Regions from separate parts of the Homo sapiens genome. Here region 1 is linked to region 2. Evidence: fine-mapped expression QTL. A gene starts in region 2. The other region holds a variant in brackets. All regions are shown on one strand. Distances are from middle to middle.

Region 1 (15,417 bases), 460 kb before region 2:
TATGAGTCATATATTTAAAGTAACATTTTAAAAGGATAAATTGGGTGGGCGTGTGTGAAATGAATGGAAGAAAGGAGAACAGAGAAACAGAAGACTTGTTAGGAGTTTATGTTTCTTTGGGCACTTTAGGATGAGAATGGGCTGACTGGCATGGCGAAGCATGATGAAAGCAAGGTCATTACCAATAAAGAGGCTGTAAGGTGAGATGTACGATTGGGCATGGAATCAAAATATCCTATAAAGTTTCATGCCTCAGAATTAGGAAAAAGGGAAAACAAACAGAGTTGGATTCTTGCTGGAAGAACCACCCTAATCAAGGAGCAGTTATTAAATGATCAATAGATTTTTGATGGATGTGAAAGATAACCTATTATGGCACAGCTAGCAGTCCTGCCTTCATCAGAGTAGAGTTCTTTTGGTTTTCACTCAAATTTTATGAGTTTTATGAGTTAGCATGTAATGAAAAAGAATTTCATGAGACTTTCAGCATAGCAATCTGTTTTATCACCATTTTCACCATGCCGAATTCCATCCATGAAAGACTAATTTTAGTTTAATACTTCTTTTTCAGTTACAACATCAATATCTGCTCATTACATGAAACCATTTTAAATGGATAAGAAAGAAAATTTAAATGGATAAGAAAGAATTCTAACTGCCCAAAGACTACCAAGACCTATATGGTGTATATTTGTCTAGATTTCTTCATAAACATGTACATATAAAGAAAATGAATTTTTACCACATGCATGTTAAAAATTCATTTTATAGATGTACAAAAAATAATTTTAGGTAAGATATATATAAAATTTCCACCTGGCATTTTACTTTCAGAAATAAAATTATATAATTCAATTAGATAATTATAATAAGTAATCTTTGAATATTTATTTTGAGTAGCAAACTGAAACAAGGAGAGAGAGAGAGAGATGGAGAAAGAGACAGAGACAGAGATATTTTGAAATTGCCAAAGCCCTGGCAATTTAATAACTCAGTAATCAAAATGTTGATTTTTTCAGAAATACATTGAAGAAACCATTAATATTTCCAAGGTTAAGTTAGCATAGCCAGAATTAGAAGAAATATTTTAAGTTCTACATTCTACCTGGCTTCAAAACATTAAAATTTATTAAAATGTCTCTTCATAGTCAATGAAGAAAGAAAGAACACCTTGAAAAATGAGAAGGGTTGCAATTGATTTTATAGCTTAAAAATAGATAGTGTGGAGCAAAATCATATACTGTGGTTCTTTGATAGACTGCTACAATAATATTCTTAATCACATTGTATTTTTACAACTATAGTTCACATAGAAACTGTCGTGTTTCTGTACTTGGTGAAAACAATAGACTAGGTAAGGTCAACCAAGGACTGAATCACCCCTCTGTTCCCTGTTATTTCCCCCAGTAATTTCCTTTTAAATGGAGTCCTGCATTTGAGGACAAGAGTGAAAGAAATAGGGCATGCAGAAGTGCAAGAGAGGGAGGGAGACAGAGAGAGAGAGAGAGAGAGACAGAGAGACAGAGAGACAGAGAGAGGACAGAAAGCACACTTTTGTATTTGTTGCTTTGAGTAATGGTATAGCTCAATAAAACCTCAATTAAGTAATGTTATCAGGGAATAGGAGATTGCGATTAATAGCATTTCCTGGGCAAATGAGAGCCAAACCAAATTCTTTTCTTGGAAGAGGAGGGGTAGTACTGGGGAGGAGAAGTAAGTAGGATAGAAATTAGTCCTTGTTGGTGAACATCTTTTAAAAATGCATTGTTTCACATTTCTGGCTCAATGAAAACCTTATCATGAATATAATTTTATTTCAAGATTGGAGATCTTACAGAGACCAGGGACTTTGTTCTGAACCACAGTCCCCAGAAAGTAATCATAACAAACAAGAAGACAGTTGTGCATAAAAATATGCTCTCTCCTTCAGAAAAGAAGTCTAACTTTGTAAAGATTTGCCTGTTTTGTGAAAGTGTTAAAAGCAGAGGCATGAGCATGCTTGCACACATAGGTTTTCTATTTCCTACCAAAACCTACAGAATGTTGGAGTTAGAAGAAACTGTATTGGTCATTTAGCATAGACTGAGCCCTTTATTTTACAGATGAAATAAATGACACCCGAAGAGGTAAAATGTCCTGCCCAAGATCAAAGTGTCTCTTATAAAAAATCCTGTGCTAGTTACGATGAGTCTTTTACACCATTAATACATTGAGCTTCATAACATATTCAATAATAAAAACCAATTATTCTTCAATTTAAAATGCAAATTGCCTCTAATATCTTGACAAATAAGAAGCAATCCAAAAAGCGTACATTTTTTTTCATTCCCATGACATTTCTATTGACAAAACTACACCTGTATGTCACAGAGGAAAAAATAAGGATTTATATATATTCAACTATACATACACACACAATAAATAGATTTTTATCTCAAACAATTATATATATATATTTTTGAGAAGTTTTTGTTTGTTCTCTTGCTTGCTTTTAAATTTAATTTCCTGGAGAAATTCTGACTGACTCTGGGTGAAACCAAGCATGCTATTTTTTAATTAAAGGTATTGAATTAGCTTCATTCCAGTGTTATATAACTCAGCATCAATTTTACTTTATTTTCACTGTTCTTTAGCCATTTATTATTCCCTTTGGTTTTGCTCAGGGAAGATACTATGGGTCTCATATTTACATCTCCAAACTCTCTTTCTCTTTTGAGCCTCTCCTCTATCTCCAATATACATGACTGTAACTTAATGGGGAAGCTTCTCTAATAACCCAGCACATAGTGAGGAAGGCCACATTTCCAGGGGTGCTAGAGGAGGATGGAGAAAAACTATAGAAAACGCTCCGTGTGGAGGTTTCTTTTAAGCAAGCTGAAGATCCTCAAAGCTCTTTTTTTCTAAAATAATAGTATGTCTTATTGCTTCAGAGAAAGTTAGAATCTACTTGGAATTAATAGTATTTTATCAGTTTCACACTTTAGCCATGTAGACCCATAGAAACTCAGGAGAATCAACTCCCTTATTTTATAAATCAAGACCTGGTGCCCAACAGTGGGAAATGCATCCTGAAGTCATAGTTATGTATATTTAAAGTATTGAAGTGGTTGGCTTTATCTTGACCTTTTTTTTCATACAGAAATGAACATTAATCAGATCATGAGTGTTACTACTTACATGATCATGAATAAAAGTCCACAAAATGAGGTCGAAATTTGGGTGTTGGCTGTTAACTAGGCTCACTCTCCTGCAGAGTGATTCACAGCACACATAATTCAGATGTATCACTTGGTAAAATAAAATATCAAAGAACAATGTGTCAGGGACCATGACAGTTACCTGTGAGAGATGAACACTTCAAATATCAACTCTGTAAATGTCCAAGTTCCCCTTTTCTTATGTCTCTAGGGCATACGCATGCTTGACCACAGCTAATGGCCCTAAAGGCCCCACGAGCTCCTGGCTACCTCTCCTCCCTCCTTCACCCCATGCTCCTTCACGTATCACAACCCTCCTACTCTTTCCTTTCTGTCCCTCAAGCTCTCTGTGTCCTTCCAACCTCGGGGCCTTTGCATTTGCCCTGCTTGGAAAACTCTTCCACAGGCTACATACATGAATATTTTCTCTCATTCTGTGGTTGTTCAAATGTCCTCACCTCAAAGAGGCCTTTCCTGAATTTCATGGCTATCTAAAGGAGCCCTGTCATGGGCCTCTGTCACAGCAACAACTGTGTTTTTTTCACAGGGCTTATTTGCATGAGACATTAAGTTGATTATTTATTTATTTGTTTTTTTGGTATATTGTCACTTTCCACTAGAGCGTTTGCCTGGGAAGGACAGGAGCTTTATGTATTAGTCACTTCTTGACTCACCAAACATTTTTGCAACCCACCATTAAAGTTAGGAAAAGATCAACGTGGTTTTCCTACTCCCTTGCAGTCACTCAGCACTTCACTTCTGACACCAGCTGTCTGGCGGTTTTCCCTCACACACCAAGCAGTTTTTCAGTTTTCTAGTCGACACCAACTGGATGTCCTATAATTTTATTCTGACACATATCTACCCAGATATAGTGTCAGATCTCACAGATTGAGGGCTTAGTCCCAAAAGACTGTCTCTCACTTCAGATGTCAGTTACAAGTCCCAGCTTGTGACCTGTGCTCCTGATTGACTGGCTATAATTCAGGGTTCCCATGACCCCCTTCTCAGGTTCAACTAATTTGCTAGGGTGGCTCACGGAACTCAGGGAAACAGTTCACTTATGTTTACCCATGTAAATAATGTTATAAAAGATGAAGATGACCAGCAGATGGAAAAGATGCATAAGGCAAGGTATGTGGAAGGGTGCAGGGCTTCTGCGCCGTCTCCAGGTGCTCTTCTCTCCCAGCACCTCCACCTGTTCAGCAATACGGAAGCTCCCCAAGCCCAGTCCTTTTGTGTTCATGGAGGCTTTATTACATAGGCATAATTGATTAAATTATTGGCCATTGGTGATCAGCTCAACCTTCAGGCCCCCTCCCCTCCTCAGAGGTCAGGGTGTGGGGCTGAAAGTTTCAACCTTCTAATCACATGGTTGGTTCCCCTGGTAACCAGCCTCCCATCCTGAGGCTATCCCAGAGGCCCCAGTCATCAGTCATCTTGCTAGCATACACAAAGACATCTATCACTTAAGAGGTTCCAAGAGTTTCAGGGGTTGTGTGCCAGGAACCGGGGACAGAGACCAAATACATAATTCTTATTACATCACAATATCACACCCACCTTTTCATTCCAGCTGTCATGGGTCCAACAGGCTGCTCAAATGTAAGCCTGAAAGCACCTCTCCTCAGCTGCCCTAAATATCTCTTACTTTCTGACCTGGGCATCTCTGCCTCCTCAGCAAGGGAAGGGGGATAGGTGGGGGTGGAGGCCTCATTCCACTCATCCATGCATACACATGCGTGACCTTGGAAGTGCAGGGAGTCAACACCTCATCGGGCAACCTTTGATCAATGGGGAACAGGAGCTTGTGTTGCTCAGGTGAAAGATTCTAAGATGCGTTCTACACAGATCCTAAGAAAGTGCCCAGAGGGACCCAGACAACAGTGGACCATAGTGTAAGCTGCTTGATATTGCACCCTTGCATTGACTTGCCCTCCTTCCCTGTTTCACTCTTTTTCACCCCCACTCCTGTTCCATGCGATTACATCCCAAAGTAACTGTAGGCAGGCCCTTGTCTCAGGCTGTGCTTTTGTGGAGAATGCATGCTAAGGCTGTCTGATTACTCCACTGCTATATTTCTAGCCCCGAGAATGGTATTGAGCACATAATAGACACTATATGAATATTTTTTGATGAAACTCTTGAGTAAGTAAATCCATTTCCCATCAATAGAAATAATACAGCATACACATTTCACAAGGTCCACAAAATTGAAATAAACTAGTCAGAGTTCTAAAAATAAGATATATTCTTAATTTTGCTGAGTGTCTCAACAAATACTGAGCTCCACTTAAATGTCTGGCACTAGGATTGATCTGTACAGGAGACAAAGATAAATAATATCTCTTCTCCCATGATATTATCTCAGCGTTATCAAGAAGAGGGATGCCCAGAGTAGCTATGAGCAGTTCAAGGAGCCCATTAGATCTGCCACCAATTATCACCCGTAGGTCTCCTGTGGAGTATGTGAGATGAAGGAAATTAGCAGCACATAAAAAAGCAGACCATATTTGCCCTGCCAGAGAGAATATAAATCTTAAGACATTTTGTGACTGGCTTTCCAAGTGCTCAAATCAACTGTAGAAAATAGAGAAATTCTTGTTACCTAAGGGATGGAATTCAATAGCAGTACTTAAGATAGATAAAAATAAGGATGACAAACCTATCTCTACCAATGACAAGATTCTTTTTTTTGAAAGCCAGAGGGTTAAGGGATCTAATGCTATAACTATGGGAAAATGAGTATTATAAAATCCAGGTCTCTTACATATAGGCACATAATATTACAAAATCTCAGAAAAGCTGCAATACAACTTTTGCTGTCACTAGTGGCTTAGCATTGACTGAAGTCATTGCTCCCTGGGAGCTAAATTACCCCAGAGTTGACAAGCCAGTCTAGTCTCAGTAGAAAACAGAAGGCACATTCAAAAGTGATAATTGAATAGAGTTTAATATAGGGGCTATATATAAAGATGTAGTAGGGCTTAGGGGAGACCAGGGGTAGCATAGTTCTTAGGGGCTAGCAACATTGGGAAGCCACTTTCTTTCCTATGACTGCAGGGAAATGGGAGACAGCCATGAGAGAGGGTAGCTGCAGGGAGAGAGCCTCCCAACAGGAACTGTGGCCTTCATCATGGATGTGTAGCCAAGCCTTGGCAACCCCTCAGTTAGAAACCTAGGGATATAAGTATCTCGATGCCACTCTCCCTCCTATTGAGGGTTTTAAGAATACAAATTTTATGTAACGATTAAATGGTATAAGATGTTGTATTAGTTTTCTAGGACTGCTGTCACAAACTACCACAAACTTGGTGGCTTAAAATCAAAGAAATTCAGTTTCTTACAAATATGAAGACTAGAGGTCCAAAATCAAGGTGTTAGCAGGGCTATGCTTCCTCCAAAGGCTCTAGGGGACAAACTGTTCCTTGACTCTTCCAGCTTCTGGGGCTGTGAGCTTCATTCCAGTTATTTCAGTCTTCTCATGGCCTTCTCCTCCTTTCCCTGTGTCATCTCCTCTTCTGTTTCTTATAAGGACATTAGTCATTGGATTTAAGGCCCACCCCATTAATTCAGGAGGATCTCTTCTTGAGATCCTTAATTTAATTACATCTGCAAAAATCCTTTTTCCAAATTAGATCATATTTACAGGTGCTTTTCACATATATCTTGAGGGGTCACCATTAATCCCACTAAAGATATAATGAAGTAAAATATTTTCAGCAAATTAAGCATGCTATCAACACTGAGAAAACTGGAGGCGTGTAGTGGATACTGTGGTGCACTGTCCCATTTCCCCGTTCACGACTGAAGCACTAATTTTTTCTGCTGCTGGGAGTGTTGCCTGCTGATGGCTCATAGCTGCATCACTTTCCAAGAATTTCCTTAATCTAAAGAAAGCTGCCTCTCTAAGTTTTTGCTTTCTCCCTGGGAACAGCCCACTGGTAATGAGTGGATAATGAAGGAGGATGCACAAAGGTCTGGCTTTGTGCCTCAAT[TC/C]TTGATAACTCTAAAGGGACATCCCAGCTCTAGAGCTGTCTTGTGGGAAGGGCTGAGGCTTCTGTTGCAACTTCGTTGGAAGGCAGCTTCTCCTTCCATCCCCTCTTGCTTCCCTCACTCCCTTGTAGGTGTTGTTCTCAAGAGCACTTCTTGATAAAGCTTTTGTAGGCAAATTTCACCACAGTGTCTGTTTTCCAGGGGCCTTGATTTAAGACATACTCCCACATGAGATGAACCATCAATAGTCTAAGTAGCTCAGAAGGAGGCTTTTTGGAGAACCATCCTCCCAATGCCTAAACAAAAGAAGTTTTATGCTCCATTGTGTGGGCTCTCTGTCTTACTATTGCCCCTGTGATAAGAAACATGAGGTAAGAAGTTAAACACAAAAACTAGAAGAATGAAAACCTTTTCAAAATAGAAGTAATATTTTTCAAGAATTGGACAGAAGTCTAAGTGGATGGTTAGTGGGTATTGAGAAATTAAATCAAGATCTTATCATATCATAGAAGATTTGAGAATATATTTTTAAACAGAAAATGAAAGCCAAAAGTCCTGGATATTGAGAACAGAAATTAAGAAAAAATATCTAAGTGTGGCTAGAGAAAAAGGAACATGTGCTAAAAGTAAAAAAGTAATGAATCCATAGCAATCCTGGGATGGCACAAGTTTCCCACAGTGTTGAATCCTCTCTTTTGACAGTAGAGACAAGCAGTGTGGAGTCTTCCTCCTCAGTGATTTGCACCAACAGCCAACCTTTCAACAGGTGTGGTTTCTCGGTACTGACCTCTAAGCTGCAGAGACTAAGCAGCATCCAGCCTGGCCTCCAGACACTTCCTGTCTATACCCCCAGTAGAAGTAATTGATAGAAAGGCATCAAAATCCTCTCCACTGGGGCTTGTTTTGCCATGTCAGAATCCAAAATCATTTTTGAAAATCACACCTAAGACTTTACAGAGAGAGATATATATATATACATATATATACACATGTGTATATACATGTATAACCTGTGCTAATTTGGGCTGTTCAGCACAGAGAAAATCTTGTACAGAACATGGATCCAAGGCATATCAGATATACTTTGGTTCTTGGCTCTGCCACTTTCTAGCTGTGGCCTTACACAGAAGCTATATCGGGGGAACCTGCCCCCAATATTTAAATGTAGGTTCTTTCTATTTTCCGTAAGTGTCAGCTGGCTGAGAAATAAAGAGAAAGAGTACAAAGAGAGGAATTTTACAGCTGGGCTGCTGGGGGTGACATCACATATCGGTAGGACCATGATGCCCACCTGAGCCTCAAAACCAGCAGGTTTTTATTAAGGATTTCAAAAGGGGAGGGGATGTATGAACAGGGAGGAGGTCACAAAGATCACATGCTTCAAAGGGCAAAAAGCAGAACAAAGATCACTTGCTTCTGAGGAAACAGGACAAAGGGCAAAAGGCAGAACTTCTGATAAGGGTCTATGTTCAGTGATGCACATATTGTCTTGATAAACATCTTAACAGAAAACAGGGTTCGAGAGCAGAGAACCAGTCTGATCAAAAATTTACCAGGATGGAGTTTCCCAATCCTAGTAAGCCTGAGGGTACTGCAGGAGACCAGAGCGTATCTCAGTCCTTATCTCAACCACATAGGACAGACATTCCCAGAGTGGCCGTTTATAGACCTCCCTCCAGGAATGAATTCCTTTCCCAGGGTATTAATATCAATATTCCTTGCTAGGAAAAGAATTTAGCGATATCTTCCCTACTTGCATGTCCGTTTATAGGCTCTCTGCAAGAAGAAAAATATGGCTCTTTTTGCCTGACCCCACAGGTAGTCAGACCTTATGGTTGCCTTCCCTTGCTCCCTAAAAATTGCTGTTATTCTGTTCTTTTTCAAGGTGCACTGATTTCATATTGTTCAAATACACATGTTTTACCATGAATTTGTACAGTTAACACAATTATCATAGTAGTCCTGAGGTGATGTACATCCTCAGCTTACGAAGATAACAGGATTAAGAGATTAAAGTAAAACAGGTGTAAGAAATTATAAAAGTATTATTTGGGAACTGATAAATGTCCATGAAATCTTCACAATTTATGTTCCTCTGCCGCAGCTCCAGCTGTTCCCTCCATTCGGGGTCCCTGACTTCTCGCAACTTCTCTCCCTTTCTTTTTATATAAATGTGCCATGGTGATGAAGGCTTGTTCGTTCTCTTGGTTTTGACACAGGATTCTTTGACTGGTCTGGCACACTAAAAACAAGCTGATTAAACAGGGAAACCTAATCCCAAAATTTACTACAGTGGAGCCCCCAATAGACTTAATCCAAATTGTGGGATTTAGTCCAGAAAGACTTTCTGCCACCTGATCTAACGCCTCAGCTCCAGGCACAATGGATAAATGAGCTTGAGAGACTTCAAAAATTTGTTTCTTTAGTTTAGTTATGTCCAAGGATAAATTATCTTCCCTACCCAGAAGGTGTCCTTTGACCATTTCCCATGAATGATCAGTCTCATTGTAGGAATATGGTGTGATACAGAAATCAGAAGTATTCTAATCGCACTGCATTTGCATGTGATGTTCGAGACTCATAAGCCGATCCCCAAGCCAAATAACAGACTGTCTTAAATCATTAATTTGATTAGCTAATATTTGATCGATGCCTTGTTGAGAATTCCACATTTGGGTGGAACTGGCTTGCCAATCATTAGCAAAATGAGCCATTTGAATAGATTGGTGTAATGCCACTCTGGCAGTGGTGGCCAGTGCAGTGACTGTAATTAGGCCCATGATCACAGCAATTACAGTGAAAACAAATCTCTTAGATCTTTTGAGAATTCGTTGTAACACTTCATTAATTAAATGTACTGAGGGGGAAGATTCCCAAGGTCTGGGTAAAGTTACTGGTATCTAGATTCCTTCTTGAGTTTGAACCAACATTACACTTTTCCTGAAGTCAAAATGGGAATGAACACAAGTGTATAAATGACAATTATTGCATTGGACAGTTTGACTGTTTGTCCAAATTTTGATATTTCCCATTAACAGCATGTAAGGAGGCTTAACACAACTCTGTATAGGAATAGTCAGGTTGGAGGTAAACAAAGCAGAATGTTTGAATCTATGTCGATACTGAGGGAGAGGAGTGGTGGTGGCAATGCCCGATGTTCTCCGCTGTAAAGAAGCAATCTGAGGTGCCCAGGGATGCTGAAGAGGTGGAGGGGTATACCCGGGTTGAGAAGAATTATTATTATGCCAATTGGAGTCCCATAAAGTAGGATCAGCATCAAAAAGAGGAAAAGGGTTCAAAGGGGATTTACCATGGGGTTCAGAATCACGGATGCAAGGGGCGGTAGTGGGGACAACAGACAGAAAAGTTTCCCCCTCCCATACTCAGAGTCTGGACATGACAATAGCCAATTTCCTATGTTCTGGGTGTTCTGGGCTCAGAATGGGGAATATCATATGAGGCCTCAGGTGGGGGGTAATGCCCTTATATTCCCATTTTAAGGGAAAGAATGAGCTGAACCTCCTACGCAAAGTAGGATGATGATCCTCGCCCTCCCAATAAGAAATAAAATAAGTACCCTCCAGGCATTCCCTTCTGCCAGAGGAGTAATTGTTTTTTAAATAGCCCTTTGGTGCCCAGCCTATTACTAAACCATATGGGTTTTTTTTAATACTGCTGCATGTGAGTTAACACAGTCTTCCCAAATTAAAGTTTTAGATGGGCCCTCAAAATTTTTAGGACATGGTTTTCCTACAGGTTTATATTGAAAGTATGGGGTATCTCCTATTACTCCCCTTTTTATTTGTCTTAAAGGAGAAAGGGAGAGGCCGGAGACCAAATGTCCTCCTTCCCTTGTAGCTAATCTCTCTGGAAGATAAGCAGACCAGACTTGAGTTTCTAGATGGATACAACCAGGTGCATGTCCGAGGCACAGAGGACGGTATTTATAACCCATAGTAACATTAAATGCAATGCCCTCTTCTCCTGGTTGAGCAGGGCAACGGTCATCTCTAGCTCCAGGCATCCACACACGATCGTTAGTATAGATTTCCTCAGGAGCATCCATCCAGGTGAAAGTTCGAATAAGTGGAGGAAAAGGCACATAAGCCCAATAAGAATAATTTTGTGTAGCAGGTAAATCAGTTTGAGGGGAAACTGGTGAGACAGAAAGTATAAGGAGGAGAATTATTAAATAAAACCAATTTAAGCAAGGTCCAGTGCTGAAGGAAGAAGAGAAGAACAGAGGGTTGTTATTTTCAGACTAATAGAAATGGCGAGATTTTTAGGTTCATAAGGAGAAAAAGAAAGGGAATTAGGAGAAGTGGGATTAGTTAGAGGGGTCTCCATTGCCATTAGGGAGGATTAAACCAGACCCATTTTGATTTGGCATGCCAGTTTCTGCAGAGTCGGCACAGATCTCACCAGGTATGATGGCGGTCTCTGACGCAGATGTCTTTTCCTTGTGGTTTTCATTGTCAGTATTTACAGGAAGTTTAAGTCTTCTAGTGGGCACCCAGACAGGGGATTGATGATCTCCAGGTGAAACACAAGCATACCCTCGTCCCCACATTAAAATTGTTCCAGGTTCCCAGGTATTGGTCTGGGAGTTTTTCCATAATACTGGCTTGCTTCCATTTAGGGAGAATTTTTTCCCTGTATAATGGCGTTCAGCTGCAGTCAGAGTATTGTCTTTAGGAACATTTAGAAAGTTTAAAGTAAACAATGCTAAATGTAATTGGGAGTGGGGAGTGGTTACATTATGCTTTTGTTGCTCAGACTGTTTGGACAATGGAGTTTTGAAAGTGCGATTGGCCCATTCCACCACAGCCTGTCTCTGAGGAAGTACTTTCTATTCATAATGAGCTGCAGGCTCCTGATTATTGATAATGGTACAGTAAAAGCAAATTTTTCACAATCCGATTTATGTAAAACAATATGAAAGAAACAGTCTTTAAGGTCAATCACTATGAGAGGCCAATTTTTAGGTATTAAAGCAGGGGCAGGCACGCCGGGTTGGACAGGTCCCATAGGTTTAATTACAGCATTAATGGCCCTTAAATCAGTTACCATCCTCCGCTCACCTGAATTTTTTTTTTTTTTTTTTTTTTTTTTTACTGGAAACACAGGAGAATTCCAGGACAAAAGAGACGGTTCCACATTTCCAACTTATAACTGTTCAGAAACCAATTGAGTTAAAGCCTCCAGTTTTTCTTTAGAGAGCAGCCACTGCTGAATCCAAACAGGTGTTTCAGATTTCCATTACAAAGTTACAGGATTAGGAGGCATGGCAGTGGCCGTCATTAAAAGGGATAACCTAAACCAGCCCTGTCTTCTTTTACAGTAACTTGAAGAGGTTTAGTAATTCCTTCATGTCTTGGACCGAGACCAAGTCTGGGAACAAACCCCATGTTTTCCATTATATGTTGACTGGGAACACTATAAGAGTTACATGGAATATTAATTTCAGCCCCCCACTGCGCCAGCAAATCTCTACCCCAAATATTAATGGGGGTTGGTGTGATATAAGGCTGAATTGTACCCTTTTGACCATCAGCACCAGTGCAAGGCAAGATAAATGTGCTCTGGTGAAATTCATCAGCTTTTCCAACACCTACTAGTCCCATGTTAGCGGGATGTTTAAGCCAGGAGGAAGGCCATAAATTAGAGGAAATAATAGAAACATCAGCCCCAGTATCTACTAGGCCGTCAAACTTTTTTCCTTGAATGTGTATGGTGCAGGTGGGCTGTTGTTTAGAAATTACATTAATCCTATAAGCAGCTTTTTCACTGCCGGAGCCCATCGCAGGGCCCCATGTCTTATCTCCTTTGTTTAAAATAATATTAGGTAGTAAAAGTAATTGAGCAATTGACTCACCGGCCAAAATGGAAACAGGAACTTTGGCAGACACCATAAGTTTAATCTCATCAGAGGAATCAGAATTAATGAGACCAGTATGAACTATGATACCGTCAGCAGAGGTGGATGCCCTGCCTAACACCAGGCCCACTGAACCTTGAGGTAAAGGGCCAATAACCCCCGTGGGGACAATTAAAGGGAAAGAATTAGGTAGTAAATTTAGAGGACTGGTACTACAGAGATCGACCGCCCTGCCCCCTACTGTGGAGTTCTAATATTCCCTTTTTAGGAAACCAAGGACAGTGTTCTTCCACCGCCCTGAATAGGGTGACCATATTTTCTATGGGCACTCAAACTCCTCCCTGTTTTAACAGGAATTTAATATAGCAGAGATAAGCATAATGTTTAGACTCCATGTGACCCATAGTTACCCTGGACAATACACAGACAACTCACCAATCATCAGGGAGCTGAACAAGCATTTCTGTGTGCCAGCCCAATGAAAATTTCTCCACACCTACCAAAGGGAATTGGGTTCCCACATGCACTTAGGAAAAAGAAAACCACATTGGTGTGCCAGATATCAGGGGAACCTGCCCCCAGTATTTAAACGTAGGTGCTTTCTATATTCCATAAGTGTCGGCTGGCTGAGAAATAAAGAGAAAGAATACAAAGAGAGGAATTTTATAGCTGGGCCACCGGGGGTGACATCACATGTCAGTAGGACTGTGATGCCCACCCGAGCCTCAAAACCAGCAGGTTTTTATTAAGGATTTCAAAAGGAGAGGGGATGTACGAACAAGGAATAAGTCACAAAGATCACATGCTTCAAAGGGCAAAAAGCAGAACAAAGATTACATGCTTCTGAGGAAACAGGACAAAGGGCAAAAGGCAGAACTTCTGATAAGGGTCTATGTTCAGTGATGCACATATTGTCTTGATAAACATCTTAACAGAAAACAGGGTTTGAGAGCAGAGAACCAGTCTGACCAAAAATTTACCAGGATGGAATTTCCCAATCCTAGTAAGCCTGAGGGTACTGCAGGAGACCAGAGCTTATCTTAGTCCTTATCTCAACCACATAGGGTAGACATTCCCAGAGCAGCCATTTATAGACCTTCCTCCAGGAATGAATTCCTTTCCCAGAGTATTAATATCAATATTCCTTGCTAGGAAAAGAATTTAGCGATATCTTCCCTACTTGCATGTCTGTTTATAGGCTCTCTGCAAGAAGAAAAATGTGGCTCTTTTTGCCCGACCCTGCAGGCAGTCAGACCTTATGGTTGTCTTCCCCTGTTTCCTAAAAATCAGTGTTATTCTGTTCCTTTTCAAGGTGCACTAATTTCATATTGTTCAAACACACATATTTTACCATGAATTTGTACAGTTAACACAATTATCATAGTGTTCCTGAGGTGACATACATCCTCAGCTTACAAAGATAACAGGATTAAGACATCAAAGTAAGACAGGCATAAGAAATTATAAAAGTATTATTAGGGAACTGATAACTCTCCCTGAAATCTTCATGATTTATGTTCCTCTGCCGTGGCTCCAGCCGATCCCTCTGTTTGGGGTCCCTGACTTCCTGCAGCAATGCTAAATCTCTCTAAGCCTCTGTGTTCTAGCATCTCTTAAATGGGTATGTGTGAAGACTGATGACATGTAAAGTGCCTGGCATCCAAGTAAGCCAGGTGCAAAACAAGCTATTCTTAGCATAAAATGCATAGTCCTTTTTGTTTTTCTAATGATAACAACAACTTTTGGCCAAAATGTTATTTTATATGAATTGCCTAATTCTTTCCTTGATGAAAACAAATGTGAACTTATTTTTCTTTCCCCGTATCAACTGTACAGATTCAAAAGAGCTGAAGAAGAGTGATCTGTATACTGGTTAGTGCCATCCATCATTAACCAAAGTTCCCAGCTCTGTTTTGGACCCCTAAGACAGTCAGTGATATATGGAACAAAAGGTGGTCAAAGAAAGTGATTTTCAGGCAAAGATTTGAGCTCACATCATGAACAATTTAGAAAGTCACCTTTTGCCCTAAGGAAGAAGTTGGGGAAATGGCAAAAGTGGCAGAACACTGCAATGTCATCTTTCTAAGCAATGTTATGTATGGGGTACAATTAGGAGCTTAGAATTTGGGTGGAAACAAACTTTAGCTTAGTATCTAGGATTTACCCAGCTTTTAGTTGAATGACCTTGGTCAAGTAACTTAAATTCTTTCAGCTTTAGTTTCCTTACATATAAAATTATGGTAATGACAATGCCTTCCTTCAAGATTGCTGTGAAAATTCAAAGGGATTACATATGTGAAAGTTTCTGGTGTAGTGTCTGGCCCATAGCACAGCTAACAAAGTCAC
Region 2 (14,599 bases):
CATCATAAAGAAACTTCGAATTTCATAATTAAATGACGTTTATCAAGTCAGATGATGACGTAAGCCCAGTCCCCTTGACACTTATACCTAGGAATCTCTTAGGCTTAAAAACAAAAAAAAAATCTGGCAATTTGACAACCTGTAAAACTCTCATTTTAAAAGTTCAGTTCTCCAAATAAGATAATGCACACCCCCAAAACAAACGGCCAGCAAGTCTGATATAAACATTTTTATAGCCTTCAGAATATCAGGTCCACCAGTTTTGATGGATATTTTTAACAGTTAAATTAACACGATAAAGTTAAGGCCACGCTATATATCAAACATATCAAAATATCAAAAATAGCAGCAAAAGGAAAAATCTATATGTCATAAAACAAGTAAAGCATTCTCATCAACAAATCATCAGCTACAGTCATATTTTTAAAGCTTAAAAATCTTTTCAACTCTAAAACTGGCTCCACGCAAATATTAATTACATGCCAAACCTTGTAAGCAGTACTATGAACATCATTATAACTCTATTAACTAAAACAGTAGTTAAATCAACAACTTGTTAGACTAACAGCTTACTTGAAGAAAATTTTGCTTCCATACCACTAAGCTTCCATAAGTCACAACATCTGTGCCCTATTCAAAGACTTAATTCCAAAATAAAGGTTGATGGAAAAAACTCGTCATAAAGGTTCACAAATTAGGGTGTTATAACACTATAAGCCAAAAAAGGAAGCTGTTTAAATGAGTAGCACACAGGAATACAAAACCAGTGTCTACCTCTACAACAAGAAGAGTTGACTCTAAACACTACACCTGCTCTAAAACACAGTCCATTTGCCTACACTGCTTAAGTTTTTAAGCTCTGAATTAAAAATCAAGTCCTTCCAATGCTACATTGAGATTTTTTAAAACTGTTTTCTTCTTCCATGTGAAAACCAATGTGTTCCTTCAAAAAGTAATCAACAATTCATTTTCACAACCACTAAGAAATTATCATGTAAATAATTCCTGCATCAGCTATGCATATTACCTGGCTTCAGTCTTCCACAGAGCTTTGCCTAACTAGATCTGCCTCTGTGGAGGTATAAATATTCTCTCAGTCCTTAACATAAACGAAGTCAGGATAGTAAACTGGTAAGGTCCCCTCCAACTGTCCTCTCACTCAACTGTAAGCAACATCCCCAATTCTCCTTCATGGAATAGAACAGCACACAAATTCAATCTAGACTCTGGCATCAATTTAAAAAGGTATAGCATTAAGAACTTTGTCTTGGAACCAAGTATCTGCGGAGTCGGCATACAGAAACAGCGTACAATTAATAACATTCCATTTACCATACTATACTCTGTGTAAATCAGATTTCATTACAGTGCTGGAAACGTGGTGGTAAACTGTCAGTGGAAATTCTCAGCCCAGAAGAGACACTCAATCCCATCATGCAAACTTTGCTTCCCTCATAACCAACTACCCTGACTCACCTACCATGTAACAGGATTCTCCTCCTTCTAAATCACACTATTCAAGAAATGTGCACACATCTCTCCTTTTAATAAATACTAGTAAAACTTCAGTTTACGGTTTTATGAAATACTGAAAACCAATCTTTGACCAAGCTTAAGTTCTGCCCCTCTACTTTTCTTACCAAGAGCCCTCAAATAAATAACTACTCGCAGTGTTCTGATACTCCTCCTCCCACCAAAGACTGGTGTCCTTATTTTCCCAAATCGCTGCCTCCCATTAATTACCACTTAAGTCCATTTCTCTTGCATGAGGCAGACTTTTTTTTTTTTTTTTTTTTTAGCACAGTCCTTAATAAGCAGGCTTCTAGTCTGGCATACCTGGGAAGAAAACTCAGAGACTAACTCCCAAATATGACAGGAAAACAGTAACATAACACGAGGGTCAAGAGATGGGAAACAGGCGCGTGACTGTTTTGGTTAGAACAGCCGGGGCACACAGTCCATGAAATCAGGTATTTAACACGTAAATCTTGTTCCTGCGGTTTGGTAAAATAAGCACGGGCAGTGTGAGAGACGTCCCACAAGCTGGAGGGCAGGGACGAGGGTCAATCTAGAGAGCTCCAGAAGCTGTCAGGGCAGAGCCGGGGGAGTGGGCACAAGACAGAAGAAAACTAGCTGTAGGGGATTCTGCGGCTGGGTGGGCTAAAATGGTGCCTTCTCCAGGGTGGAAGGCCATGAGAAGTGGACCCGGAGGCTTCATTCCATCGGGCTCCGGTCCCTAGGGTTTCTGGGCTCACAGCTCAAGTTTCACCGGGAAAAAAAGCGGCAAACGTGCATCCCGGCACCTTAACCTACGAGGGTTCCCAGAGAATGAGCGAGGAAGTAACGGTCCCCGGAGCAAACCCGGAGTTCGGCGCACGAAGCACCATCGCCAACCCTCGGCCATCCGCACGGCGACCCGCGCGGCCGCGGGGGAGGGCAGCGGGCCGCCGGCTCAGCATTCGCTGGCCTGGCCCTTCCAGGGCCTCGCCCCGGGCGCGGCGAAAAGTTTCCAGCCAAAGTCCTCGGCACTCGCTCGCACAACCAACCGCCTCGCTGCTCCAGAGAACGGCTGGCAGAGCCGGCCGCGGCGCCCGCACCCTCAGTGGCGGCTCCCTCAGCCCACGCCGGCCGCCGAGGTTCACCTACCACAGAGCCTGGAGAAGAGCAGCAGCGGGAAGAGCAGCAGCAGCAGCGGAGGTGGCGTCGGGGGCTGCAGCAGGAGCCCGGCTCCGAGGAGAGAAGCGGAGGAAAGTTGTGCTTTGCCGCCTCCAGGACACAGCGGGGACGGCCGCAGGGTCCGCGCCATCCCCCACCCTCCCCCCGGCCCGCTCGCCCGCCCGCCCCCCGGCTCCCCCGGCCCCGGCGCCTCAGGCTCTGGGCGGAGGCTGTGGAAGGTCCGGCGCGCGCGTCCCCAGCTCCCAGCTCTAGCGCCGTCGCTGCCGGCTGACACTTGGCCGAACGCTGGCGGCTGCCTCGACACCGCCGTCGCCGACGCCACTGCCGAGGCTGAAGCGGGAGCCGCCCGCCGCCGCCGCCACTCCCCTCCCCTCGGCACCCGCCCGCGTCGAACTCCTGGGAACTCGGAACGCACCACCCCGCCCCACGCAAGAGGGGGAAAAGAAACCGACTCTCAGAGCGGGCGCCCGACTCGCCCGCCCTCCCCGCGCAACTCCACCTCCCGTCTGATCCCCGGGCGCAAGCCCTGTCTCCTCCCACCCCGCCCTCCTACACATGCTCCTCCCCTTTCAAAAAAAAATATTCTTTTCATCCACTTTGATAACGGGGTTTCTCCCACAGCAGAGATTTAAAAGGGACAGGAAAATCTGGAATAGGTTAGTCGGCCCCGCCCCTCGTTCCTGCCTGGTTTCCCCCCTTCCCTGCCTTTCCAATGGTCTCGCCCACTCCACCCCTCGCGGGTCCACGGGGGCCCCGGCGCCGACTGAGGCGAGGGCTGCGGGACAATCACGCTCGGCCTTCTCCTCTCCCGGGCGGCGCTCTCCCTGTGGCGGGGACCTGGGACGAGGGGGTGGGGTGGGGAGGGGAAGGCAGGAGGGGGCTGCCCTTCCGTTGCCCATGCTAAAGGTTCCTGTGTAGGAAGCTGGACGCAGCCTGCTGGACTAGTAATCTTCCTCCTCGCTGGGGCGCGGGGCACTGAAGGGAGGGAGAGACTTTCTCCTCCTTCCTGTTCCCCGGGACAGCTGTGCTCTCCGAATCCTTCCCTTCTTCCCAGCCCACTTATTCCCCGCTCGCCAAGGCACGTTTGCACAGGCATTTTTCCTGCTCTTTTTTCTGGGAGGGCAGCTTGGTAGAATGGTCGGCGGAGCTGGGCGAGGAGAGGGGTCTTCAGAAGGTTTGCTTTCTTGCTCTTGCTTCTCACTGGCCGCTGGGCTGTCCACTTTCCGCGCCGGGCGACTGGCAACAGGAGGCCATGGATTTCCCCCAACGAGTGCGTTGGTGTTTTTCTTTGGTTTTGTTTCCTTTGCATGTTCGTATGTGTAGTTTTATTTTCTTGCCTGTTTTCGTTTGATGGCAGAGAGGCGACCTCGGGAAGTATTAAACATTTGCCCGTATAAGAAGAGCGTCTGTGGTCCACCATGACCCTCGCTCATCCCAGGTGGCTCTCCGCCCTGCCCTCTCCATCCTCCCGCCTCGCACAGTACCGGCAGCTTGACCTTGGAGCCACTGCCACATTGGTTCCGCGGGGGGAGTAGGAGGGTGGACAATTTGGACTGTCCAGCGTAGGGGGTGAATTGAAGGCAGAGGACACCAGTCCTCAGGCCTGACACTATTAATTTTATGTAGGTCCTGTCATCTCCACGAGATAGCCATAAATGTGTTCCAGTAACAGGAAAGCTGAACAAGGATCAGCCGCCCAGAAGTTAGCCTGTCGCAGCTAAACTAATGCATGCTTGCGGCCAAGACCACGCTGTCCTCGGCTTTCAGTCAATAGGGTCTTCCCACCTTCCGCCCGCTGGATTACAAGGCTTTACTAACCTCCAAGGCTACAAGCCATTCTACACCCTGCCCACCTCTTTTTTCTTTCTTAACTTCTGCCTCCCTTCCAGTCTCCCAGCGCTCGGTCTAGTGCCTTTTTCCCTCCAGCCCTTTCCTCTTCCCTCCCTCCCTGTGCCTGTCTGCCTCTGTCGTCCCCTGTAAGCTTGTCTCCTGCAGCCAAGGCTTTCTATCACCTATTCTCAAGATGCACTTATGAATAAACCTTGTCCTGCATCGCTCCGGGAGATCCCCTGATGATGATCATAATTGACAAAATGTAGCTATTGTGACATTCCTCAGCTGTGCTGACACCACCGTTTCCCTTGAGAAAATTTCTTTTTCTATATTCGCATTCCCTAAACCTAATTTCACTGCTAAATTTAGACAGCTCACTGCGCAGCCACTAGCTAATTATCTGTTTAGATAGCACTTTAACACGTTGTTGAGACTCAGTTAAATGTTAAACAACCAAAATTTTAATATCACTAGCCAATTTCATTCTTCCAGGTTTTCCCTGATGGCTCCACATCTCCAAGAAAAGTAATTTAGCCAACATTTCAAAAAATACCAAAGGCTTAACTTGGGTAGGGGCCATCGGGCAATTGCTACAGAGACCATAAGGAATTAGCAGGTTAAGTTCGTCTCAAAAAGATGACATGGAGCTTTAACAAATATATTTCCTCCATACTTACAGAAATTGAATAGTGGTCTGCTATGATATTCTCTGACCTAAAGTGAAGAGAGAGCATGGAAGAGCATTATTTATAGATGTTATATAAGCATTAAAAGAGCACCATGCTGGTGTTTTATGTGCATATATGTATTATATTCTAATAATAATAATTTGTGTTTATACAGCATCTTCAACTAAAGATGTCAAAGCACAAGCTCACTTCCCACGGAAGGTAGCAATTACTATTATCTACTTGACAGCTACAAGAACCTAGGCACAGAGGTTAAGTGCTCTGCAAATACTACCAGCCAGTGGTGGTTTTCCTGCCAGAACCAAGTTCTTGCCTTCCAGTGGACACCATTGATCTCTCAAGATGATTCTTTAAGTTAAAAAGTAAGATAACTCAAATTTCTACTTTCTATAATAAAAGTGCCCAATCTTAAATTACATTCTCCTCAGATGAGTGAATTTTAGACATACTCACCCCAAGCTTTCCTGTTGGAAATTTTTACTGGCCACAGAAAAAGATTTTACATTACATATACAACTCATGTTTTTCAAGGGCAGAAATACTATTAATTTTTTTAAAACCTTTAGCATGAGAGTATTAGTGCGTTCTATGCCATTTTTAGTCTTCTAACTTTATACATAAGTTCACATTTATTGTTTGAATAACAAACTGTTTAAGGAATACTTAATTATAGCTAACTTATTAATATTTCTGACACCATTGAATAACAAAGTATACATGCATTTTTTCAGAAAAAAATTATCTGAACAGAAAGCAATGTAATCCTAATGCCAACAATAGTTTCATTGTTTTGGGTTAAGAGTACTGATGGTGTCCATCCTACTTTCGGCTCAAAGATTGTTTGCCAATTATCAAGGTTCATTAACTCTTAACTAAAAAACAAAGGTTGACATCTTAACAAAGAAGTAATTATGTACAGTGCTGGGCATTTTACATTTACTCAAATAATCCAAGTGAAAAGTTTGAGACTATTATTAGAATTTCATAGCTGACTCTGAAACAAAGGAGGTATTTTACAGGAGAGGTAAGACATTATATACTTCAGCTAATTCTTCTTAACATCAGCAAATTCTATAACCTGCTGTGTGAGGACGCATAGCTTTTCCTTTAGTAAAAGAGATGAATGATATTTTGTAGAATATTTGAACTTTGTACTATATTTGATAATAAGCTTATGTTATCCAGTTAGGATCACAGTTTTTGTAAAGAGAATTATGCAAATAATAAAAAACAAACTGCAAAATCGCAGAAAAGTCCATCCACTTGCAAAACGTTCACCAACCTTACTCTTATTAAATGCAAGTCTTTCTTACTGAACAGATCTTCCCTGTATGCTCATATGACTTTCTCCCTCCTATTTCCTTTGAATCTTTGATAAAATTTAACTTTATCATTGAGGCTCTCCAGGACCACATCATATGAAAGAGCTTCCCCCACCCTAATCCCTATGCCCTTAACTTGCTTTATTTTCTCCATTGCCCTTACCATCTGACATGTCTCTAATTTACTGTCTGTTCCCTTTCACTAGAATGAACAGTCCACAAGGGCAAGCAAGTATCTATATTTTCACTGTTAAAACTCAAGTAGGCCAGGCACAGTGCCTCCTGCCTGAAATCCCACCACTTTGGGAGGCCAAGGCTGGCAGATTGCTTGGGTCCAGGAGTTCAAGACGAGCCTGGCAACATGGCTGTGTTAGTCTGTTCTCATGCTGCTAATAACGACATACTTGAGATTGTGTAATTTATAAAGGAAAGAGGTTTAATTGACTCACAGTTCCACATGGCTTGGGAGGCCTTAATCATGGAAGAAGGCAAGGAGGAGCAAAGTGGTGGCAGGCAAGAGAACATGTCCAGGAAAACTCCCCTTTATAAAACCATCAGATCTCATGAGACTTATTCACTATCAGGAGAACAGCACAGGAAAGACCTGCCCCCATGATTCGATCACCTTCCACTAGGTCCCTTCCACAACACGTGGGAATTGTGGGAGCTACAATTAAAGATGAGATTTGGGTGGGTACACAGCCAAACCATATCAATAGCAAAACCTCCTTTCTCCTATAAATACAAAAAAAAAAAAATTAGCCGGGTGTAGTGATGTGCTCTTGTAGTCCCAGCTACTTTGAAGGCTGAGGTACGAGAATCAGCTGAGCCCAGGAGGTCGAGGCTGCAGTGAGCCAAGATTGCATCCCTGTACTCTAGCCTAGGCAGCTGGAGAAAGACCCTGTCCCCCAAAAAAAACCAAAACCAGAACAAAACAAAACAAAAACCCCAAGTACCTAGAATAATGTCTGCCATATAGATTCCAAACTGGATGATTAAATGATTATTATGACATAGCATACTCAAGTGCATGTCTCATTCAGTAGAGGTTTATACTTCTTTAAGGTCTTGAACAATAGGATTGATCATGTATAGTTTTTTTAAGCTGGAAGGTGGTTACTCTGACCATTGCTTAACACTCTTGATATAATTGTTATTAGTGCTGTTTATTAAACTATTATCTCTCCACTCTGTATTCATAGTTCTGCCCTGGTTTTGTAAGGCTGGTGCTAGGACTCTGCAAACTGTGTATCTCCTTTACCGACTGGCTTCCTGACGGGTTCTATCAATAGAGGTCACTGGAGGAAATGTGGACCCCTGGAGTAAGAGAAAAGGGACTTGTTCCTTTCCATTTGCTTCTTGCTATCAGCATCACCTCAGTGGTAATAACCTGTCATCCTGTCTTTAGCAGCTGATTCCAGCCTCCCACTTCTTTTACACTCTAAGTCCCAGAGTCCTCATGACTCCTCAAAAGTACCAGCACCAACTAGGCTGTTTCTACTTCTCAGAGGTCCAAGCCCCAGCTAAGGAGGATGGCTCCTCTAAACTTCTGAGTTCTAATAACACAAACCTTCCCCTTTGTCCTTCTAGTTCTAAGGGTAGTAACAGCTTCCCACAGCTTATATCTCTAGGTCACCACAGTGCTTCCCTTTTTGATCTAGAGAACCATCCCCCCATCCCTGTGTAACATTTTCATAATATTCCCTTGGTTACATAGTATAGTTTCTGTATTCCTGATTGGACCTCAACTTATTTTTCAGTGACTATTTCCCAAAATCTTCTCTTGTAACAGTTACTTTTTTCTAAGATGAGCTTCTTAAAATCACAGAGCCAACATAACTCCATCAATTAATGTAAATAAAAACAAGGCAAATGAACAAAATTTATTCTTTCATTGGCAGTAATCCAGGTTAGCAGAGATGGGTTGGAAATAAGTAAATTTGGAGGTAATTATGTTGTCATTTCAGCAATATATACATATGCTATGTATTTTTGTTGTTGCTCCTCATCCAGGTCATGGTAAAACAAACATAAATTTCTCATTTTTAGATGGTTTAGGTGATTTTTTTATGAACTTAGCACTTGAGAATTATGAAATTAAAAACGAAAGGAATATACAATTTGATAGAAAAAAGAAGACCTTGTGTTTGATAGGTCACTAGGGTGACTATAGTTTACTATAATCTATTAGGTATTTCAAAATAGCTAGAAGAGAATAATTCAACTGTTTCTAGCAGAAAGAAAAAACAAATATTTAAAGTGATGGATATCCCAATTATACTGATTTTATCTTTACAAATTACATGAATGTGTTGTCACATGTACCCCCCCAAAATATGTACATCTATTATGTATCAGTACAAACAGATGAAATTTTAAAAATTATTTGAGAAAAGATTATTTGGACTTTTAAACTTACAATGAAAACAAACTTACGTTTTACATAACTATCTAAAGGTTAACTCTATTCATAGTATACAACTCCTGTAGAGGTGCTGGTGTTCCAAAAAATATAGTTCGAGAAACTGATATGCAGGCAGAAAGAAGAGCTATACTATATCATTATGGTAGGTAGGTTAAATAATAGGGTAGGTAGCTTTAATAAAGATGATTAAACTACTATATACTGGAGTCTGTGTTAGGTACTGGACATAGAAAACCCCAAGTCCTGACTCCAAATAGTAATAACAATATTCTTGCAAACATTGGAGGGATGTACAGTATGTGAGAGAGCAGAGGAGGACTCTCAGGTCTGCCTAAAAGAGACTGGGAATCCTTCACAGCACAGATAATATTTGAACAGTCTTAAAGAATGACTAGAAATTTTACATATGGATGGAGGAAAAGCAGCAGAGGGAATAGGAGAATGATAGATGGAAAGTTACAGAGGCATGACCAAGTACGATGTGTTCTGTAACCCACAAGCATGCCTGTGCTGCTAGAGAGTACCACACAAAGGGGAATTGGGAGATAAGGTAAAAATGAAGTTAGATGGGTAGGTAGGGATTGCTTGTACCTTGTAAGGGGCTTTGGATTTTTATCTGGTCGATCATAAGGACAAATGAATTTTGAGTAGGGGAATGACAAGATTAGATTTGCTGGAAAAGTCAGAGAAAAATGTGAAGACGGATATATTGTCGGGGGATTTGGGAGAATTATAAGTACGAGTTTAGTAAAAAAAAACTTGTTGTAAGGAGCAGAGTGAATGAAGGTCGGAACTTTCATTCATGGATGAAATAAAGTGGTAAAGCAGATGGAAAGGAGAAAATGAATTCAGGGGAATTTTAGTATTTTAAAATAAAATAGTTTATTTCCAGAGTGGGTTGAATATATGGTGTGGCTAGCTAGGAGGTAATAATCTAGACAACTGAGAGAAACAAAAAACAAAAGGCATGAGAGCAAAGTGATGAAAAAAAAGCACTCAAAGAAGGTAATGAAAATATGGGTAGAGGCAGAGAGATACTAGAAGACAGAACATAGAGAAGAAAATAGGGGTGGAAAAACCAAATGACAAAGGTTTACAATAATGCAATTGATGATTTTACAAATTATTGAGCAAAATTTTAGGGCAGATTTTATCATTTACTTCCGCTAAATATTGTTCCTTGGAGTCTCATGTCTGAGTTAACCAGCTTTATGTAATGTCCAGTGCAGTTTATTTTAACATTGTCAATAACCAAAAAATATTTGTTGAAGAGAGGAAGAGAGGGAAAAGAAAAGAGTAGATGGTTTTGCTGTTGTATTTAGATTGAACTGAACTAAAGAAGTCTGGTGTCTGTGTAGGTTCAGTACAGTAAAAAGCCACTTCTTCCCCCATGGGTATTTCAAAAGATCCTGCCCTAATTAATCACCTAAAGCATTGTTTCTAACTTGTACCCTTTCATATCTAACCCAAAGCGGATATTCATCAGACGCGCCATGCCCCCCAACCCAGAGAGACACACAGAAGGAGTATAATGTAATGGTAAAACCCCTGGATCCGCATTGCCTGGGTTTCAGTTCAAATCCTCATCTTGTAACCCTGGGCAAGTTACTATCTTACTTTCCTCATGTGAAAATAGGGAAAATGGTTATTTCTTCCTCACCATATTTCAGGAGAAAGTTAGTTCATATAATTAGTTTAAAAGGGGCCTAATATATAAAGCCCAAGAAATGTTAGGTGTGGTAGTAGTTTTATTATCAGTAATATTAATATTAGTATTTTATTATACTTCTGAAACAGGGTCTTGCTCTGTCACCCAGGCTGGAGTGCAGTGACACCATCATAGCTCACTGCAGCCTCGACTTCCCCAACTCAAATGATCCTCCCACTTCAGCTTCCCAAGTAGCTGGGACTAGCAGCATGTACCACCATACCTGCTGATTTTTAATTTTTGTAGAGATGGGGGGGGGGTCTCACTATGTTACCCAAGCTGTATTAGTATTTTAAACATACGTTTAGAAATTGCATATCAATCATAGCAGCCCGGGAGTGGAATTTTGATTAGGCTCATGTTGCCAACAATCCAATTGAAATCTCAAAACCAATTCTGATAAACTCTGACTTACATTAACCAGATTGTGTTAATTCAGCATCATTCTTTTTTGTTTACAAACCTCTGCAGTTTACCTCCTGAATAACACTCCCCAAGAGGTCTACATTTTAATCCCCCAAACCTGTGAACAATATATGGCAAAAGGGGATTAAGTTTGCAGATAGAATTAAGATTACCAATCAGCTGACCTTAAAAATAGGGAGATTATCCTGGATTATCCAGTTGGGCACAATGTAATCACAAGGGTCCTTAAAAGTCAGAGGAAGGTAGAAGACAAGAGTAAAAGAGATGTGACCACAGAAGAATGGTCAGTAAGACACAGGTTACTGGCTTTGAAGATAGAGGAAGGGAACAGTGAAGCAAGTAATATGGCAATATCTAGAAGATTGAAAAGGCAGGCTGGGCGCAGTGCCTCCTATCTGTAATCTTAGCATGTCGGAAGGTCAGAGTGGGAGTCCAGGAGTTTGAGACCAGCCTGGGCAACATAACAAGACCCCGTCTCTACAAAAAATTTTAAAAAGTAGGTGAACATGGTGGTGCACACCTGTGGTCCCAGCTACTCTGGAGGCTGAGGTAGAAAGATCACTTGAGCCTGGGAGTTTGAGGTTGCAGTGAGCTGAGATCTCGCCATTGCACCTCAGCCTGGACAACAGACGAAGACTCCATCTCAAAAAAAAAAAAAACTAGTAAAGACACATCTTCCCCTTAGAGCCTCCAGAAAGGAATACAACCCTGCCCATACCTTGATTTCGGCCAGTGATATCTGTGTTAGACTCCTAACCAACAGAACTATAAGATAATAAATTTGTGTTGTAAGCCATTGGATCTGTGGTAATGTTATAGCAGCAGTAGAAAACCAATCCATCCCCCAATCCCCTTACCTTAACTTCTTTGACCAACACTCAAGAACCTTAACATAAAACTCAGTTTATTTATTTTTATTATTACACTTTAAGTTTAATACACGTACAGAACGTGCACGTTGGTTACATAGGTTACATAGGTAACATGGTTACACGTGCCATGGTGGTTTGCTGCACCCATCAACCTGTCATCTACATTAGGTATTTCTCCTAATGCTATCCTTCCCCTGGCCCCCCATAACATGTCAGGCCCCAGTGTTTGATGTTCCCCTGCCTGTGCCCATATGTTCTCATTGTTCAGCTCCCACTTATGAGTGAGAACATGCAGTGTTCGGTTTTCTGTTCCTATGTTAGTTTGCTGAGAATGATGGTTTCCAGCTTCATCCATGTCCCTGCAGAGGACATGAACTCATTCTTTTTTATGGCTGCATAGTATTTTATGGTGTGTATGTGCTACAGTTTGTTTATCCAGTCTATCATTGATGGGCATTTGGCTTGGTTCCAAGTCTTTGCTATTGTGAATAGTGCTGCAATAAACATACATGTGCATGTGTCTTTGTAGTAGAATGATTTATAATTTTTGGGGCGTATACCCAGTAATGGGATTGCTGGGTCAAATGGTATTTCTAGTTCTAGATCCTTGAGGAATCACCACACTGTTTTCCACAACAGTTAAACAAATTTACACTCCCACCAAGAGTGTAAAAGTGGTCCTAGTTCTCCACATCCTCTCCAGCATCTGTTGTTTCCTGACATTTTAATGATCGCTATTCTAACAGGCATGAGATGGTATCTCATTGTGGTTTTGATGTTCATTTCTCTAATGACCAGTGATGATGAGCTTGTTTTCACATGTTTATTGGCTGCATAAATGTCTTCTTTTGAAAAGTGTCTGCTCATATCCTTCACCCACTTTTTGATGGGCTTCTTTGTTTTTCTTTTCAATTTGTTTACGTTCCTAGTAGATTCATGATATTAGCCCTTTGTCAGATGAATATATTGCAAAATTTTTCTCCCATTCTGTAGGTTGCCTGTTCAATCTGATGATGGTTTCTATTACTGTGCAGAAGCTGTTTAGTTTAATTAGATCCCATTTGTCAATTTTGGCTTTTGTTGCAATTGCTTTTGGTGTTTTATTCATGAAGTCTTTGCCCATGCCTGTGTCCTGAATGGTATTGCCTAAGTTTTCTTCGAGGATTTTTATGGTTTTAGGTCTTACATTTAAATCTTTAACCCATCGTGAGTTAATTTTTGTGTATGGTGTAAGGAAGGAGTCCAGTTTCAGTTTTCTGCATACGGCTAGCCAGTTTTCCCAACACCATTTATTAAATAGGGAATCCTTTCCCCATTGCTTGTTTTTGTCACGTTTGTCAAAGATCAGATGGTTGTAGATGTGTGGTGTTATTTCTGAGGCCTCTATTCTGTTCCATTGGCCTGTATATCTGTTTTGGTACCAGTACCATGCTCTTTTGGTTACTGTAGCCTTGTAGTGTAGTTTGAAGCCAGGTAGCATGATGACTCCAGCTTTGTTCTTTTTGCTTAAGATTGTCTTGGGTATATGGGCTCTTTTTGGATTTCGTATGAAATTTAAAGTAGTTTTTTCTAATTCTGTGAAGAAAGTCAATGGTAGCTTGATGGGAATAGCATTGAATGTATAAATTACTTTGGGCAGTATGGCCATTTTCATTATATTGATTCTTCCTACCCATGAGCATGGAATGTTTTCCCATTTGTTTGTGTCCTCTCTTACTTCCTTGAGCAGTGGTTTGTAGTTCTCCTAGAAGAGGTCCCTCATATCCCTTGTAAGTTGTATTCCTAGGTATTTTATTCTCTTTGTAGCAGTTGTTAATGGGAGTTCACTCATGATTTGGCTCTCTGTCTATTATTGCTGTATATGAATGCTTGTGATTTTTGCACGTTGATTTTGTATCCTGAGATTTTGCTGAAGTTGCTTATTAGCTTAAGGAGTTTTTGGGCTGAGATGATGAGGTTTTCTAAATATACAATCATGTCATCTGCAAACAGAGACAAATTGACTTCCTCTCTTCCTGTTTGAATACTCTTGATTTCTTTCTCTTGCCTGATTATCCTGGCCAGATCTTTCAATCTTTGTTGAATACAAGTGGTGAGAGAGGGCATCCTTGTCTTCTGCCGGTTTTCAAAGGGAATGCTTCCAGCTTTTGCCTATTCGGTATGATATTGGCTGTGAGTTTGTCATAAATAGTTCTTATTATTTTGAGGTACAGTCCATCATTACCTAGTTTATTGAGTGTTTTTAGCATGAAGAGTGTTGAATTTTATCCAAGGCCTTTTCTGCATCTATTGAGATAATCATGTGGTTTTTGTCATTGGTTCTATTTATGATGGATTCTGTATATTGATTTGCCTATGTTGAACCAGCCTTGCATCCCAGGGATGAAGCCAACTTGATTGTGGTGGATAAGCTTTATAATGTGCTGCTGGTTTCGGTTTGCCAGAATTTTATTGAGTATTATCACATAGATGTTCATCAGGGATAGTGGCCTGAAATTTTCTTTTTTGGTTGTGTCTCTGCCAGGTTTTGGTATCAGGATGATGCTGGCCTCATAAAATGAGTCAGGGAGGAGTCCCTCTTTTTCTTTTGTCTGGAATAGTTTCAGAAGGAAGTGTATCAGCTCTTCTTTGTACCTCTGGTATAATTC

The links.
Region 1: its variant is fine-mapped to the expression of NECTIN3 in whole blood (TOPMed, PIP 0.97).

Annotation. Positions count from the first base shown.
Region 1 is chr3:111,523,374-111,538,790 of GRCh38, reverse strand. The region is part of intron 2 of LOC105374039 (a long non-coding RNA gene); the gene reads right to left. Among named protein-coding and RNA genes, the nearest start is that of CD96, 11 kb to the left of the region's middle. The variant TC/C (reference allele first, on the strand shown) is at 7,196.
Region 2 is chr3:111,060,225-111,074,823 of GRCh38, reverse strand. NECTIN3 (nectin cell adhesion molecule 3) reads right to left here and starts at 3,008. Exons shown (of 6, transcript NM_015480.3): 1 at 2,647-3,008. The coding sequence starts at 2,806. It overlaps NECTIN3-AS1 (NECTIN3 antisense RNA 1), which reads left to right and starts at 4,865. Exons shown (of 4, transcript NR_045114.1): 1 at 4,865-5,034; 2 at 5,353-5,560. It overlaps LOC151760 (putative uncharacterized protein LOC151760), which reads left to right and starts at 3,058. Exons shown (of 4, transcript XR_007096272.1): 1 at 3,058-3,332; 2 at 5,353-5,560. RefSeq lists a silencer at 3,181-3,280.